Regions from separate parts of the Homo sapiens genome. Here region 1 is linked to region 2. A link means that fine-mapping ties the variant in region 2 to the expression of a gene that starts in the linked region. Tissue or cell type: whole blood. Region 2 holds a variant in brackets; the other region holds the start of a gene. All regions are shown on one strand. Distances are between the middles of the regions.

Region 1 (8,188 bases), 27 kb before region 2:
AGAATGAAAAGATTCATGGAACACACTGGAAAGTCCAGAAAGAGAGCCATGTGTATGTAATATTTTATCACATGATAAAGTTGTACGTTAATATCCTTGAGAAACTACTGGATTATGTAATAAGTTCTCTTTTGGGAATTGACTTACCATATGGAAACAATTTTTTTTTTTTTTTTTTTTTGAGACAGAGTCTCTCTCTGTCCCCCAGGCTGGAGTGCGGTGGCACAATCTCGGCTCACTGCAAGCTCCGCCTCCTGGGTTCACGCCATTCTCCTGCCTCAGCCTTCTCAGTAGCTGGGACTACAGGCACCTGCCAACATGCCCAGCTAATTTTTTATATTTTTAGTAGAGATGGGGTTTCACCGTGTTACCCCGGATAGTCTGGATCTCCTGATCTCGTGATTCACCCACCTCAGCCTCCCAAAGTGCTGGGATTACAGGCGTGAGCCACTGCACCCGGCCAGAAACAAATCTTCTTAAGTTACTATGTTGCCAGCTACAAATGGAGATTTTCTTGTAATAAAACTGAAAACAGAAAATCATTAGACTTTAACCATGATGAATTGCACACATATTGTAAGTGAGATTTGCCTCTCTGATCCTAACATCAAAATAGACCCCTTAGAAAAATTGATAGGTTTTATTAAAAGTAGTACACAAAGTTCAGTTCACCAAAAGGTGCTGAAAATAATAGCAAACCACGAGAAATATTTTCAATACATTTGATAAAGGATCAATATCTCTAAAATGAGGTGTATTAATTCTTACAAACCAATAAGAAAAAAATGATAACCAACAGAAGAATAGGCGAAGAGTATGAAATGGCAGTTGACAAAAGAAGAAGTATAAATGGCCTACAAAGTTGTTAAGTAATGCTAGCATTCACACAGGTAAGAAAATGCAAATTGAATTAACAAATCTCATTTTCTGAACCCCAGCGCTTGGATTGAAATTGCTATCGAATAAAGTATATGACTTAGGGAATGTTAGTTAAGCCCTTTATTTCTCATCTGGTGTATTCAATGGTACTTTAACCCCTCAATGGGGTTTCTGTGAAGATTAAATAAAACTTACATGCAATGTGATTAGTACAGTAACTACCAGAATGTCAGTACCCGTGTTTATCATTAGCATATTATTATTACTACGGTAATTATTGTATTAAAATTCCCAATAGATCAGAGATGCCATCATTAAATAGTCTATGAATAAAAGCATTCAAATAAATGATATGGACTTCTTTATTCATACTTATGAAGTGTATGCACTTTTAGAGGCAAGACACAAAATCTAGACACTGGAAGATAAAAGATTGATTAAAATGTATAAAACCTTATCAGAATGAAAATATAAATATGACGGTCAAATAGAAACAATATATACTGCACTATGACAAACAAAAGACTTTTCTGTAATACTGAAAGACTTGTTCTGAATAAGAAAAAGTGAAAAAGTTCAACTGAACTGATAAAAATATTGTTACCTATAGGGTCAGGGAGAGAAGAGGAAAGAGAAATCCAGAATGGGGCCTGGTGAGGTTGCTCATGCCTGTAATCCCAGCACTTAGGGAGGCCGAGGCAGGGGGATCATCTGAGGTCAGGAGTTCGAGACCAGCCAGGCCAACATGAGGAAACCCTGTCTCTACCAAAAATACAAAAATTAGCTGGATGTGCTGGCGGGCACCTGAAATCCCAGCTACTTGGGAGGCTGAGGTAGGAGAATCTCTTGAACCCAGGAGGCGGAGGTTGCAGTGAGCCGAGATTGCTCCACTGCACTCCAGCCTGAGTGACAGACTGAGAATCCGTCTCAAAAAAAAAAAAAAAAAAAAAAGAGAGAGAAAAAGAAATCTAGAATGTAAGTTAAAATCTCCAAATGCATCTTCGTTAAAATTATGACTTTAGTTCCATGTAAATAGTTTACATATGCAAAACAAATATGAAACAAAACAAAATAATACAACAAATGTCTAAAATTTTAAAATGAAAACTGAACAAATAAACTAGCTATATCAATGTTGGCATGAACATGTAAAGAAAAATTATTTCAAATGATTTTGTTGAAAAAATATTCGGATTATGTACCCAAAAAGGAAAGAAAGAGAGAGAAAAGCAAGGAAGGAAGAAATGAAAAAAGGAAGGAAGGAAGGGAGGGAGAGAGGGAGGGAGGGAGGGAGGGAAGAAAAAATAATAAAAGCAAGCAAGGAAGTAAGAAAGGAGAGAGAATAAAAGGGAGGGCAGAGGGAGAGAGTGTTTAACTGCATATCTAGGCCTAGTGTTTTAGTGGTATTTATAATATTGCCTATATTGTTATAGACATAAGGAGTAAGCAGCACTCTCAGCTGCGATCTCTGGACCATGATTGGATACATGATTCAGTATAAATACCCTTCCCATTTGCTGTCCAAAATATCTCGCTTCACAGCTGGACCCTAAGAAACAGAGTGAGTGGGCCTCCCCCATGTCCTAGGAGAGCTGAGAAAACCTTGCTCTCAGCCAGGCTGCTTAGCTGAGGCTTAGCTGAGATGGCAGCTTAGTCTTCAGGAAAGTCCTGGGGGAGGGTGGGGAACAGGGTACAGCTGCTGACAGGAGAGTGTAATATTAGGGGGGAGATCAGGAGTTAAGCTGTTTCTCTTTGTACAGAATACAGTAAATTCAGGGCAGGAAATGAGAGGGGACGGCTCTCTCTTGTGTACCAGAAGCAGCCACAAGACAGATATTCAGTGTGGTGTAGAGCAGGTCTGAATCACTCTGCCTGTCCTAGGTGGCACAGTAATAGACCCCAGAGGCATTTTCATTTAGTTTTGGAGGTATAAATTTCCAGCTTATCCTTCTACTTCCATAAGTATCATGCTTTCCTGACTGACTCCTGATTCCAACATATCCCTGGAGTTGCAGATGTCATAGTACAGAAGATGCTGTGGGGCCTTCCCCTCCTGGCGTAGGTACCAGTGGATGTAGAAGGCATTTTCTACAGGAAGATCACAGGTGATTACAGCAGATGACCCCATCTGCCTGGTGCCTGACTTTATTTTCGCTTCCAAGTTAGTAGATATCTGACTGGCTGCAATGGGAACAACATAAAATATAATGAGGTATTCCTTAGTATGGCGTCCCTTGCTAAAGAAGAAAAATCCAAAACAAAACCCAACCTGTGAGCCTCTCTGTAGGCAGCACACTTACCAAGAGACAGGAAAGCTAGAAGCAGGGCTAGGGCCCACCACATGCCTTCGTCTCTGGGGTCTTGAAAGAAAGGGCCCAGATGAACAGGAGCAGAAGATCCTCTCAAAACTCAGGTCCCACTCAACAAGGAAGTGATCCCTAGCACAGAAGGCAGTGGGGAAGGCTGGTCTTCCTGAGTCACAAGCAGGGAGAAGTGACTGAGGATGTGTCTTAGGGGACTCCCACGCCTTCCTTCCAGAAGGGTGGTGCCTGGGAGGACCTGCAGAGGAGCTCCTGCCTCTCTGCTCAGGCCAGTTCTGCAGCACCCTCTGTGGCAGCTGAGAGCAGGCCCTCTGCAGAAGAGAGCCAGGGGCATGGAGAGTTCAGGCCTCCAGCAGAGGGAGTGCAGATATGGGGAAAGCTGACCCCTGGAGTCAGCAGGCCCAGCCCTAGGAGGGGGCAGTCCCACAGCAGGCTCACACCCTGCCCTTCAGAGTTGCAGCAGCTAATGCTGATGCCAGGACCTTGTCCTGCCAGGAAGCCTCTGATTAGGGCTGTGAACCAACTTCCTTTTCACATCTGCAAGGACACTTGGAGGCAACTGCCCAAGGCCACTCTGAGGAGGGTTGAATGTTCTTTATTAAAAGGACTGAGGATCATGTGTGTTGGTGGGCCTTGGACTCTGCTCTAAGGTAAATGTGTGTGTGTGTGGCGGGGGGCGGGGGGGGGGGTGCCTGTAATCCTGTGGGTGTGATCTCTTTATTAGACAATTTTTGTTCATTAAAGTAGGAGTGTAAGTTTGTTTGTTTGCTTGTTTGTTTTTAAAGTAGTACTGGGTGCCATGTCATGAAATATTTGGAACATACTTGAACTAAAAACTTGTTATATATCTGAACTTCCAAATTCCCTGGGTATTGTATATTTTATTTGTCATCCCTACCCTCAGAAAGCAGACTAATATCTGCAGTGCACCTGGATTCACAGATGGAAATAAGGGGACAAAACAAGTACAGTAATATAATTGTGAAAATTCAGTAGGGCATGCACAGATTACCACCACCTCTGTAAGAAGTATATAGAGACACATGTTTGAAATATGCATAATGAGATGTAGAACAATGTCTCTCTTGGTTGTTGTGTTGTCCTAGCTCAAATTTTGCAGTTTCTGCTGTCATCACAGCTGGGAATGAGAAAGGGAAGGGGCTCCAGTTGGTCTCCCTCTGCCTCTGGAGCACACGTGGAGGACATGAGGCTTCCGCAGGAACAGCTCTGAAAGCTGAGTTCTCGGGTCCCTGTGAAGGAGGGAAGCTTGCCTGCCTTGGAGCGTGAAAAAGTCTTGCTGGACAGAAGTCTCACGGTTTAAAACTGGGAAGGGAGAGGATTGAGATCACACTAGAATGCACAGAAAATTCTTAAAACAAAAAAATGAGAGAAACTTCATCAGAATGTGAAAAGAACTATAAAGCTACAGTGCTGAAGAGAGGGCAATACTGGCACTAGAATGAGAAGATTCATGGAACACAGTGGAAAATGCAGTAAGAGAGCTGCATGTATGTAATATTTTATCATGTGATAAAGTGATATATTAATATTCACAAGGAAATAGTCAATTATTTAATAAGTTCTCTTTTTGGTATTGACTTACTGTATGGAAACAAATATTGTTGCATTTCTACCTTACTAGTTACAAATAGTGATTTAGTTGTAATAAAATGAAAATCATTAGACTTAAACGATGATGAATTGCATAGAAGTTCTAGGTGAGATTGGCCTTTCTAAGCCTGGCATCAAACTAGACACCCTAGAAAAATGGACAGATATTATTTTATTTTTCAAAGTTCAATTCACCATAGGTGCCAAATGTAAATAATAACACATGAGGAGTAATATCTTCAACACATTGGATAAAGGGTCAGTATCTCTAAAATAGTATATATTAATTCTTACGAACCAATAAGAAAAAATTAATCCTCCAAAAGGAGAATAGGCAAAGAGTATCACAAGGCGATTCTCAAAAGAAGAACTATAAATGACCTATAACGTTGTCAAATATTGCTAGTACTCCTAAAGATGGGGGAATGCAAATCAAATTAACAAATCTCATTTTCAGAACCACAGAGCTTGGATTGCCATCATTATTAAATTAAAGTATATGACTTAGGGAATGTTAATTAACCCCCCAATTTCTTATGTTACATTCAACGGTACTTTAAACCCTTAATGAAGTTTCTGTGTAGATTAAATAAAATGTGCATGCAATGTGCTTAGTACATTAACTACCAGAATGTCAGCACCCATATGTACCATCAATATTATTATTATCATTATTCATTTTTTTGAGACAGAGTCTCACTCTATTGCCCAAACTGGACTGTAGTAGTGTGATATTAGCTCACTGAAACCTTCACCTTCCTGGCTCTAGAAATTCTCCTGCCTCAGCATCCAAAGTAGCTGGGATTACATGTGTGCGCCACAACAGCCGGCTAATTTTTTGTATATTTAGTAGAGACAGGGTTTCACCATGTTGGCTGAGCGGGTCCAAATCTCCCGGCCTAAGTGATCCTAATGACTGGACTGGCCAAATGCTGGGATTACATGCATGAGCCACCGGGCGTGGCCAGTATTATTGTTATTAATACAGTAATTATTGTATAAAAATTCCTGATGGATCAATGATGCCATCATTAAATAATCAACACATAAAAACATTCAAATAAATGATATGGACGTCTTTATGCATACTTATGAAGTATGTGCACCTTTAGAAGTAAGACACACAATCCAGACACAGGAAAATATAAGATTTATTAAAATGTATAAAAACCAAATATCAGAATGAAAATATAAATATGGCATTGAAATAGAAACAATACATACTCTGCTATGACAAACAGAGTGAAACAGCTCAAGTGAACTGACAAAAATATTGTTACCTGTAGTGTCAGGGAGAAAAGAGGAACAAGAAATCTACAATGGAAGCTAAAATCTTCAAATGCATCACCTTTTATGATTTTGACTTCAGTTCCATGTAAATATTTTATATATACAAAACAGATTTGAAACAAAACAAAGTAATACAACAAATTTCCAAAATGTAAAAATGAAAACTGAACAGTTAAACTAGCTGTATAAATGTTGGCATGAACAAATAGAGAAAAATTATTTCAAATGATTTTGTGGAAAAAGTATTCTCATTATGTACCCAAAAAGGAAAGAAAGAGAGAGAAAAACAAGGAAGGAAGGAGGAAAACAAGGAAGGAGAATGGATGGAAGGAAACAAGGGAGGAAGGGAGGAAAGGATGGATGGAGGGAGGGAGTTAGGGAGGGAGAGAAAAATAAAAACAAGCAAAGAAGTAAGAAAAAAGAGAGAGAGAATAAAAGGGAGGGCAGAGGGAGAGAATGTTCAACTGCATACCTAGGCCTAGTGTTTTAGTGGTCATTATACTATTGCTTATATTGTTATAGACATAAGGAATAAGCACCACTCTCAGCTGTGATCTCTGGACCATGACTGGATAAATGATTCAGTATAAATAACCTTCCTATTTGCTGTCCAAAATATCTAGATTCGCAGCTGGACCCTAGTTGTACCTGTCTGTCATAGGAAGCAGAGTGAGTGGGCCTCCCCCATGTCCTAGGAGAGCTGAGAGAACCTTACTCTCAGCCAGGCTGCTTAACTGAGGCCCGGAGATGGCAGCTTGATCTTCAGGAAAGTTGTGGGGGAGGGGTAGGGAACAGGGTGCAGCTGCTGCCAGGACAGTGTGATATTAGGAGGGAGATCAGGAGTTAAGCTGTCTTTCTCTTGTTCAGAATACAGTAAATTTGGTGGCAGGAAATGAGAGGGGGCGGCTCTATCTTGTGTACCAGAGGCAGCCACAAGGCAGATGTTCAGTGTGGTGTAGGGCAGATCTGAATCACTGTGCCTGCCCCAGGTGGCACAGTAATAGACCCCAGAATCATTTTCAATTAGATTTTGCAGTCTCAAATTCCAGCTCCACCTCCTCGGTGTATGAGTATAATACTTTCCAAGACTGAGACCTGATTCCAACACATCCCTTGAGTTGGAGACATCATAGTGCAGAAGATGCTGTGGGGTCTTCCCCTCCTGCTGTAGGTACCAGTGGATGTAGACGGCATTTATTACAGTAAGGTCACAAGTGATTTCAGCAGATGACCCAGTCGGCCTGGTGACTGACTTCATTCTCCCTTCCAAGTTGGAAGATTTCTGACTGGCTGCAATGGGAAAAACATAAAATATAATGAGGTATTCCTTTGTATGGCACCCCTTTCAAAAGAAGAAAACAAAACAAAACCCAACCTGTGAGCCTCTCTGTAGGCAGCACACTCACCAGGATACAGGAAAGCTAGAAGCACCGCTAGGGCTCACCGCATGCCTTCCTTTCTGGGGCCTTGGAAGGAAAGGGACCAGATGAAAAGGAGTAGAAGATCCTCTCAAAACTCAGGTCCCACTCAACAAGGAAGTGATCCCTAGCACAGAAGACAGTAGGAGGAGCTGGTATTCCTGAGACACAGGCAGAGAGAAGTGACTGAGGATGTGTCTTAGGGGACTCCCAAGCCTTCCTCCCAGAAGGGGTGGTTCCTGGGAGGACCTGCAGAGGAGCTCCTGTGTCTCCTCAGGCCCTTTCTTCGGCGCCCTCTTGTGGCAGCTGAGAGCAGGCCCAGGGCAGAAGGGAGGCAGGGGCATTGAGAGTTCAGGCCTCCAGCAGAGGGACTGCAGATTTAGGGGAAGCTGACCCTGGAATTAACAGGCTCAGACCTTGGAGGGGGCAGTCCCACAACAGGCTCCTACCCTGCCCTTCAGAGTTGCAGCAGCTAATGCTGATGCCAGGACCTTGTCCTGACAGGAAGCCTCTGATTAGGGCCCTGAACCAAGTTCCTTTTCGCATCTGCAGACACATGGAGGCAACCACTCAAGGCCACTCTGAGAAGGGTTGAACGTGCTTTAAATTAAAAGGACTGAGGATCATGTGTGTTGGTGTGTCTTGGACTCTGCTCTAAGGTAAATGTGT
Region 2 (8,188 bases):
AAAGTCTTGCTGGACAGAAGTCTCACGGTTTAAAAATGGGAAGGGAGAGGATTGAGATCACACTAGCATGCACAGAAAATTCTTAAAACAAAAAGATAATGAGAGAAACTTCATCAGAATGTGAAAAGAACTATAAAGCTACAGTGCTGAAGAGAAGGCAATACTGGCACTAGAATGACAAGATTCATGGAACACAGTGGAAAATCCAGAAAGAAAGCTGCATGTATGTAATATTTTATCATGTGATAAAGTGATATGTTAATATCCACAAGGAAATAGTCAATTATTTCATAAGTTCTCTTTTGGATATTGACTTACCATATGGAAACAAATATTGCTGCATTTCTACCTTACCAGTTACAAATAGTGATTTAGTTGTAATAAAAAGAAAATCATTAGACTTAAATGATGATGAATTGCATAGAAATTCTAGGTGAGATTGGCCTTTCTAAACCTGACATCAAAGTAGACACCATAGAAAAATTGATAGATTTTGTTTTTTTCAAAGTTCAATTCTCCAAAAGGTGCCAAATGTAAATAATAACAAATGAGGAGAAATATCTTCAACACATTGGATAAAGGGTCAGTATCTCTAAAATGGTGTATATTAATTCTTACGAACCAATAAGAAAAAACTAATCCTCCAATAGAAGAATAGGAAAAGAGTGTACAAGGCAATTCTCAAAAGAAGAAATATAAATGAACTGTAAAGTTGTAAAATGATGCTAGTACTCCTACGATGGGGGAATGCAAACCGAATTAACAAATCTCATTTTCTGAACCACAGAGCTTGGATTGCAATCATTATCAAATTAAAGTATATGACTTAGGGAATGTTAATTAACCCCCCAATTTCTAATGTTACATTCAACAGTACTTTAAATCCTTAATGAAGTTTCTGTGTAGATTAAATACAATATGCATGCAATGTGCTTAGTACATTAACTACCAGAATGTCAGTACCCATATTTACCATCAATATTATTATTATTATTAGTCTTTTTGAGACAGAGTCTCACTGTGTTGCCCAAACTGGACTGCAGTAGTGTGATATTAGCTCACTGAAAACTCCACCTTCTAGGCTCAAGAGATTCTCCTGCTTCAGCATCCAAGTAGCTGGGATTACATGTGTGCACCGCCACAGCCAGCTAATTTTTTGTATTTTTAGTAGAGACAGGGTTTCACCATGTTGGCTAAGCTGGTCGCAATCTCCCGGCCTAAGTATTCCTAACGACTGTACTACTCAAATGCTGGGATTACAGGCATGAGCCACCGGGCCTGGCCAGTATTATTATTACTAATACAGTAATTATTGTATAAAAATTCCTGATAGATCAATGATGCCATCATTAAATAATCAACACATAAAAACATTCAAATAAATGATATGGACGTCTTTATGCATACTTATGAAGTATGTGCACCTTTAGAAGTAAGACACACAATCCAGACACGGGAAAATATAAGATTGATTAAAATGTATAAAAACCAAATATAGGAACAAAAATATAAATATGGCATTGAAATAGAATTGATACATACTGCGCTATGACAGAGTGAAAAAGTTCAAGAAAACGGATAAAAATATTGTTACCTATAGTGTCAGGGAGAAAAGAGGAATGAGAAGTCTACAATGGAAGCTAAAATCTTCAAATGTGTCATCTTTTATAATTTTGACTTCAGTTCCAACTAAATGTTTTACGTATACAAAACAAATATGAAACAAAACAAAATAATACACAAATTTCCAAAATATAAAAATGAAACTGAACAATTAAAGCAGCTATATCAATGTTGGCATGAACAAATAGAGAAAAACTATTTCAAATGATTTTGTGGAAAAAGTATTGTGATTATGTACACAAAAAGGAGAGAAAGAGAGAAAAGCAAGGAAGGAAGGAAGGAAAGAAAGGAAGGAGGGTGGGGTGATGGAAGGAAAGGAGGAAGGGAGGGAGGGAGAGAAAATGATAAAAGCAAGCATGGAAGTAAGAAAGGAGAGCGAGAATAAAAGGGAGGGCAGAGAGAGAGAATGTTCAACTGCATATATTGGCCTAGTGTTTTAGTGGTCATTATAGTATTGCTTATATTGTTATAGACATAAGGAATAAGCACCACTCTCAGCTGCGATCTCTGGACCATTATTGGATGTATGATTCAGTATGAATACCCTTCCCATTTTTGTCCAAAATGTCTTGCTTCACAGCTGGACCCTAGCTGTACCTGTCTGTCCTAGGAAGCAGAGTGAGTGGGCCTTCCCCATGTTCTAGGAGAGCTGAGAGAAACTTGCTCTCAGCCAGGCTGCTTAGCTGAGGCTTGGAGGTGGCAGCTTGGTCTTCAGGAAAGTCCTGGGGGAGGGTGGGGAACAGGGTGCAGCTGCTGCCAGGGGAGTGTGATATTGCAGGGGAGATCAGGAGTTAAGCTGTGTTTCTCTTTGTACAGAATACAGTAAATTCAGGGCAGGAAATGAGAGTTGGCTGGTCTATCTTGTGTACCAGAAGCAACCACAGGCAGATTTTCAGTGTCTGAATCACTGTGCCTGTCCCAGGTGGCACAGTAATAGAACCCAGAATCATTTTTAATTAGATTTTGCAGTCTCAAATTCCAATTGCTCCTTGTGCTTCCAGTGTCATACTTTCCTGGAGTGATTCCTGATTCCAGCACAACCCTGGAGTAGTAGGGTTCATAGTACAGAAGACACTGTGGGGCCTTCCCCTCCTGGTGCAGGTACCAGTGGATGTATAAGGTACTTGCTCCAGGAAGATCACAGGTGATTTCAGCAGATGACCCAGTCAGCCTGGTGACTGACTTCGTTCTCCCTTCCAAGTTGGAAGATATCTGACTGGCTGCAATGGGAACAACACAAAATATAATGAGGCATTTCTTAGTATGTCGCTCCTTGCAAAAGAAGAAAATAACAAAACAAAACAAAACCCGTGATCCTCTCTGTAGGCAGCGCACTCACCAGGAGACAGGAAAGCTAGAAGCACCGCTAGGGCCCACCGCATGCCTTCCTCTCTGGGGCCTTGGAAGGAAAGGGACCAGATGAAGAGGAGCAGAAGATCCTCTTAAAACTCAGGCCCCACTCAACAAGGAAGTGATCCCTAGCACAGAAGACAGTAAGAGGAGCTGGTCTTCCTGAGTCACAGGCAGGGAGAAGTGACTGAGGATGTGTCTTAGGGGACTCCCAAGCCTTCCTCCCAGAAGCGGTGGTTCCTGGGAGGACCTGCAGAGGAGCTCCTGCCTCTCTGCTCAGGCCCGTTCTCCATCGCCCTCTTGTGGCAGCTGAGAGCAGGCCCTCTTCAGGAGAGAGCCAGGGGCATGGATTGCTCAGGCCCACAGCAGAGGGAGTGCAGATGTGGGGGAAGCTGACCCTGGCGCTAGCTGGTCATGGCCCTTGGGAGAGGGCAGTCCCACAGCAGGCTCACATCCTGCACTTCAGAGTTTCAGCAGCCAACGCAGCTGCCAGAACCTGGTCCTGCCAGGAAGCTTCTGATTAGGGCCCTGAACCACCTTCCTTTTCACATTTGCAAGTCCACATTTGCAAGTCCACCCAGGGCCATTCTGAGAAGGCTTGAGCCTGCTTTATTAACAGGACTGAGGGTCAGGCATGTTGGTTTGCCTTGGACTCTACTCAAATAAAAACAACGGCAGTGGCTCTCACTAACCATCGGTAGGACATTTTAAGCACCAAAAGAATAACACCTACACAAATTCTTGAAAAACATAATATAGCAAAATAAAGTCTCCTCTGGAGGTTGCTAAGACACCATCTCATTCTGAAAACAGAAAAGAAAATAATCAAGCATTTACCTTGCCATTTCTGTACA[A/G]ACATTTTAGAATACCACAGAGCTTAAGAATGAAAGTTCTTTTTTTTTTTCTTTAGATAGATAGAGTCTCGCTCTGTGTCTCAGACTGGAGTGCAGTGGCACAATCTCAGCTCACTGCAATCTCCACCTCCGGGGTTCAAGCAATTCTCCTGCCTCAGCCTCCCAAGTAGCTGGGATTACAGGCACGCGCCACCACACCTAGCTAATTTTTATATTTTTCATAGAGATGGGGTTTCACCATGTGGGCCAGGCTGGTCTTGAACTCCTGACCTCAAGTGATCCACCCACCTCGGCCTCCCAATGTGCTGGGATTACAGGTGTGAGCCACTGTGCCTGGCCGAATGAAAGTTCTTTTGTGGAAGTATTACAACCAATAAATTTAGGAGAAATGTTAAAATGAGAATATTAGCATTATGCAACCGTAATGATATGTTGAATTTAGACAACTACCATGAATTGCTTTATAGCTTTCACGTGCCCTGGCTCTATTTCTCTCTCTACTATTCTATTTCTCTATCTCCTGCATTGCTTTCTATCACTATGTCCTTCCATCTCCGTCTTTATGTCCATATTTCTTTTTTCTCTGTCCCGTTTTTGTTCCTCCCTTTACATTTTTCCTTCTATAGCTCCCTCTTACAGCTCTCAGTCTCCTCTATTTTGCTTTAGTGCTCCTGTTTCTTACTCTGTTCATATCTTTATGTTTCTGTCTCTCTATCTGCCTATCTCTATTCATCTCTTTTTCTATTTCTCTATTTGTATCTCTCCTATCTATTTACTTTCTACCTCCTTCTCTCCTCCTCTCTTTCCATTTCTTCCTGTGGTCACTATAGCTCCTTTAAAGTCTTTGTTATTCCAACACCTGTGTCGTGTCAGGATTAGCATCTGTTGTTTGGCTTTTCCGTTTGGAGATGCTAAGATTTTCCTCGTCCTCCACATGCGGAGTAATTTCGGATTAAATCCTGTACACTTTGAATATCATGTTATAGAGCTCTGGGCATTGTTTAAATATTACACAGAATGTGGAGGGGGTTTTTTTGTTAGCAGGCAACTGACGCAGTTAGGGATTACAACTTCCTACTGGTGTTTGGTGGGCAGTTCCAGTCAGTTCCGTTTTCCAGCCTTTGCAGTACTTGTCTTGTCAGACCTGTCCTGTGTGTGCGCCACCCAGTGGCCATTCTAGGACCTGGGCAGTGCCTACTCCTGCTTCGGTTTGCAAGGCCTTTGGCTTTGGAGCTGTTTAGGGTCACGTTTATGCATGCACAGCTAGTGGGTGAGCCCAGGAGTCCAGACATCATTGCATGATGTTTCTTGCTTAATCTTCTTTCTCTCTGCAAGCTCTGCAATACTTTCTAGTTCACAGGAAATGCCCCTCCAGTCGTCTGGCCAGACAGGTGTGGCTTTAGCACACTGCATTTCCCACCATTGTGTCTCCCTCCAGGGCCAAGTGGTGAGAGGATAGAGAACAAAAACCACCAGGATTCTCTCTCAGGGCCACAGCTTCCCTGGTCAGAGAGAAGGATCCCTTTCCTAAGAGCTTTAGGCTCCTGGCTCACCATAGCTGCTGCCACTGCCACTCAGATTGCCTGGGGGCTGCGAGAGAATGGAAAAGGACAAAAAACAGAAAACCAGGGCTCTCTGACCACAGAGAGTCCCCCTTTCTCTCTGTCCTCACCTGGTGTACAGTTCTGCATTTCAGATTATCTTTGTACATATACTCTGATTATCTGAGTACAGGCCAGGGGATAATTGAGGAAAAATAAATAAGAAACTTACTGGGAATTCATAGTGCTTCACTTTCCGATTTCCTTCTCCAGTTGACTTGCTATCATTTATTTTTCAAAGTCCTCAGATTCAGGGTTCATAGTTGCATTTGTGAGCCAGACAAGGCAGTGTGGGCTCACTGCAAATTTTCCAGAAGTGGAACTCATTCTTGATAAGTCAAAGCTCCTTCGATTAAGAGGCGCCGTTTATGCCCCCCGCCTTTTTTTTTTTTTAAATACAAGAAGAACTCATAGGGCTCCAGTTCTGAATTGAGGCTTCAAGTGGCCTGATGTGCTTCTGCTAGCTCTTTGCTTTCTGTCATTGTCATTAGAACAAATCCAGGCTAGCCTGTTGGAGGATGAAACCCTGTGTGTAGTGGAGCTGATTTATTCAGACCCAGGCACTTTGACCAGGCAGTCCCCCTCCCAGCTAACCCAGCAGCTGCCTGACATGTGGCCAAGCCCAGCCAAGATCAGATGAGCTTGGTTTAGATCAGCAGAACAGTCTAGCAAACCTACGCATTTGTAAGAATTTGTAGATGATTATTGTGCTAAGCCACTGAGTTTGGGATATTTGCTACATGGCGTTATTGTGGCAATAGTATGGATAGACAGACAGACAGATAGAATATATGAAGAGAAAAGGAAAGCTAGAAATACATATAATTTTTTTTTTTTGAGACGGAATCTCGCTCTGTCGCCCAGGCTGGAGTGCAGTGACGCGATCTTGGCTCACTGCAAGCTCCACCTCCCTGGTTCATGCCATTCTCCTACCTCAGCCTCCCGAGTAGCAGGGATTACAGGTGCCCGCCACCACACCCGGCTAATTTTTTGTATAGAAATATATATAATATTTTATATATAACATATTATACATGTATAAATACATTTATGTATATTTTTACAATATATAAATATGCATATTTCTTTGTTTTTTCTCTTTATATATATTTTTCTATCTCAATATTTACCATTATTTCTGTATATTTATCTCTATCTTCCTAACACTGCCGCACTCTGTGTGTCCACGTGTATGCTTCTGTCTCCACAGGTCTATCGTTCTCTCTCTCTCCCTATCTCTCCCCCTAACTCCAGTTCTCTCTTCTTGTATCTTTCCCTATTTCTCTGTCTCTCTCCATCACTGTCCCTGTCCCTGTCGCTATATTTATATCACAGTTTCTCTCTCTTCTCTGTTGTTTTCTCTCTCTCCATCTTCCCTCCCTCTCTCGCTGTCTCTCTGTCCCTTTGTCTCTCACCCTCTCTCTGTGTTTTGTATTTCTTTCTCTGTTTTCTCTCTCTCTCCCCCGCCATGATAGAGAACTATACCTCTCCACGTGTCTCTGTCTCTTGCTCTTTTTGCTTGTATGGCCACTGTCCTAGTCATTTTCTTTCCTTCTCACTTCCACTCTGCTCTCTGTCCCTCTTCAACTTTCTACTTTCTGTTGCCGTCACTGTCTCTATATCATGCCCTCTCCCTCTTCATATGAACACTCTGTCCCCTCTTGTGTCTCTCCTTTTGTCTCTATCAAGTCCTCCTTGCCAGTCTTCTGGGGTCCTGAGGGTGTGATCTGCTCACTATGGTGGGAGAGAGGTGCAAACTCACAGATGTAAATGTTCTTCTGCTTCTCCTCGTAATTGTACCTTTACATATCAAGAGGTCAGCATTATGATGATGATGATAGAAGAATTGTTTAAAAAAATAGCACTGCCTTGGGGAGAAAGTTCTAGTGCGCAGACAATTGCTTGTATTTCTATTTCAGTCTGCTGTGAGATGTTCCCTAGCAACACTATGGGAAACAATCTGCTTACCATGAATTATTAGAATTTCCTCACCTCTAAATGGTTGTCTGGGCTCTCTGTATCACTTTGTGACCGCAGTGACGCAGGTCAATAGTGTTTTCAATGAGCTTAAGGGGGCACACACCTCAGTATCAAGAGCACACAGCACAAGGCCTGGAACGTAGTAGGCATTTAATGTGTATCAATGAGGCTGGGCACGGTGGCTCATGCCTGTAATCCCGGCACTGTGGGAGGCCGAGGCAGGCAGATCAGTTAAGCCCAGGAGTTCCAGACCAGCCTGAGCAACATGGTGAAACCCAGTCTCCACAAAAAATACAAAAATTTAGCTGCACGTGATGGCACACGCCTGTAGTCCCAACTACTTGGGAGGCTGAGGTGGGAGGATCCCTTGAGTCTGGGAGGTCAAGTCTGTAGTGAGCTGTGATCGTGCCACCGCACTCCAGCCTGGGCAACAGAGTGAGACCCTGTATCAAATATATGTATATTTGGATGGGATAAATGATCAGGTGTGTAGTTTAGAAGGCTATTATAAGGGTGTCAATAAGGCTGAATTATATAACATATATTCTTTCCATAGAAAATTAAAAGGAAAAATGAAAAATTCTGCAAAGAACAGGGTTTGTATATGCTCAGTCTGGGCTGGGGCATAGATGGGAATGAGTAACTCATGCACATCATCACTGATCATCCCGGGCTAAAATAGGAGTGGACAATGGAGAAGATACGAAGCCAGAGTGGATGGATGAAGGGTCCCCAGTTTACGTTCCTGTGTCCTGTGCTGCTCACTGGCCGCTGCATGTT

What was found. PIP is the estimated chance that this variant, and not a neighbour inherited with it, causes the effect.
Region 1: it holds the start of TRG-AS1, and the variant in region 2 is fine-mapped to the expression of TRG-AS1 in whole blood (TOPMed, PIP above 0.99).

What each region holds. Positions count from the first base shown.
Region 1 is chr7:38,337,950-38,346,137 of GRCh38, forward strand. TRG-AS1 (T cell receptor gamma locus antisense RNA 1) reads left to right here and starts at 3,472. Exons shown (of 4, transcript NR_040085.2): 1 at 3,472-3,850; 2 at 8,072-8,178. It also overlaps TRG, the pseudogene TRGV6 and the pseudogene TRGV5P.
Region 2 is chr7:38,365,051-38,373,238 of GRCh38, forward strand. The region is part of intron 3 of TRG-AS1 (T cell receptor gamma locus antisense RNA 1); the gene reads left to right. It also overlaps TRG and the pseudogene TRGV1. Among named protein-coding and RNA genes, the nearest start is that of TRG-AS1, 28 kb to the left of the region's middle. RefSeq lists enhancers at 3,031-3,120, 5,105-5,154. The variant A/G (reference allele first, on the strand shown) is at 3,828.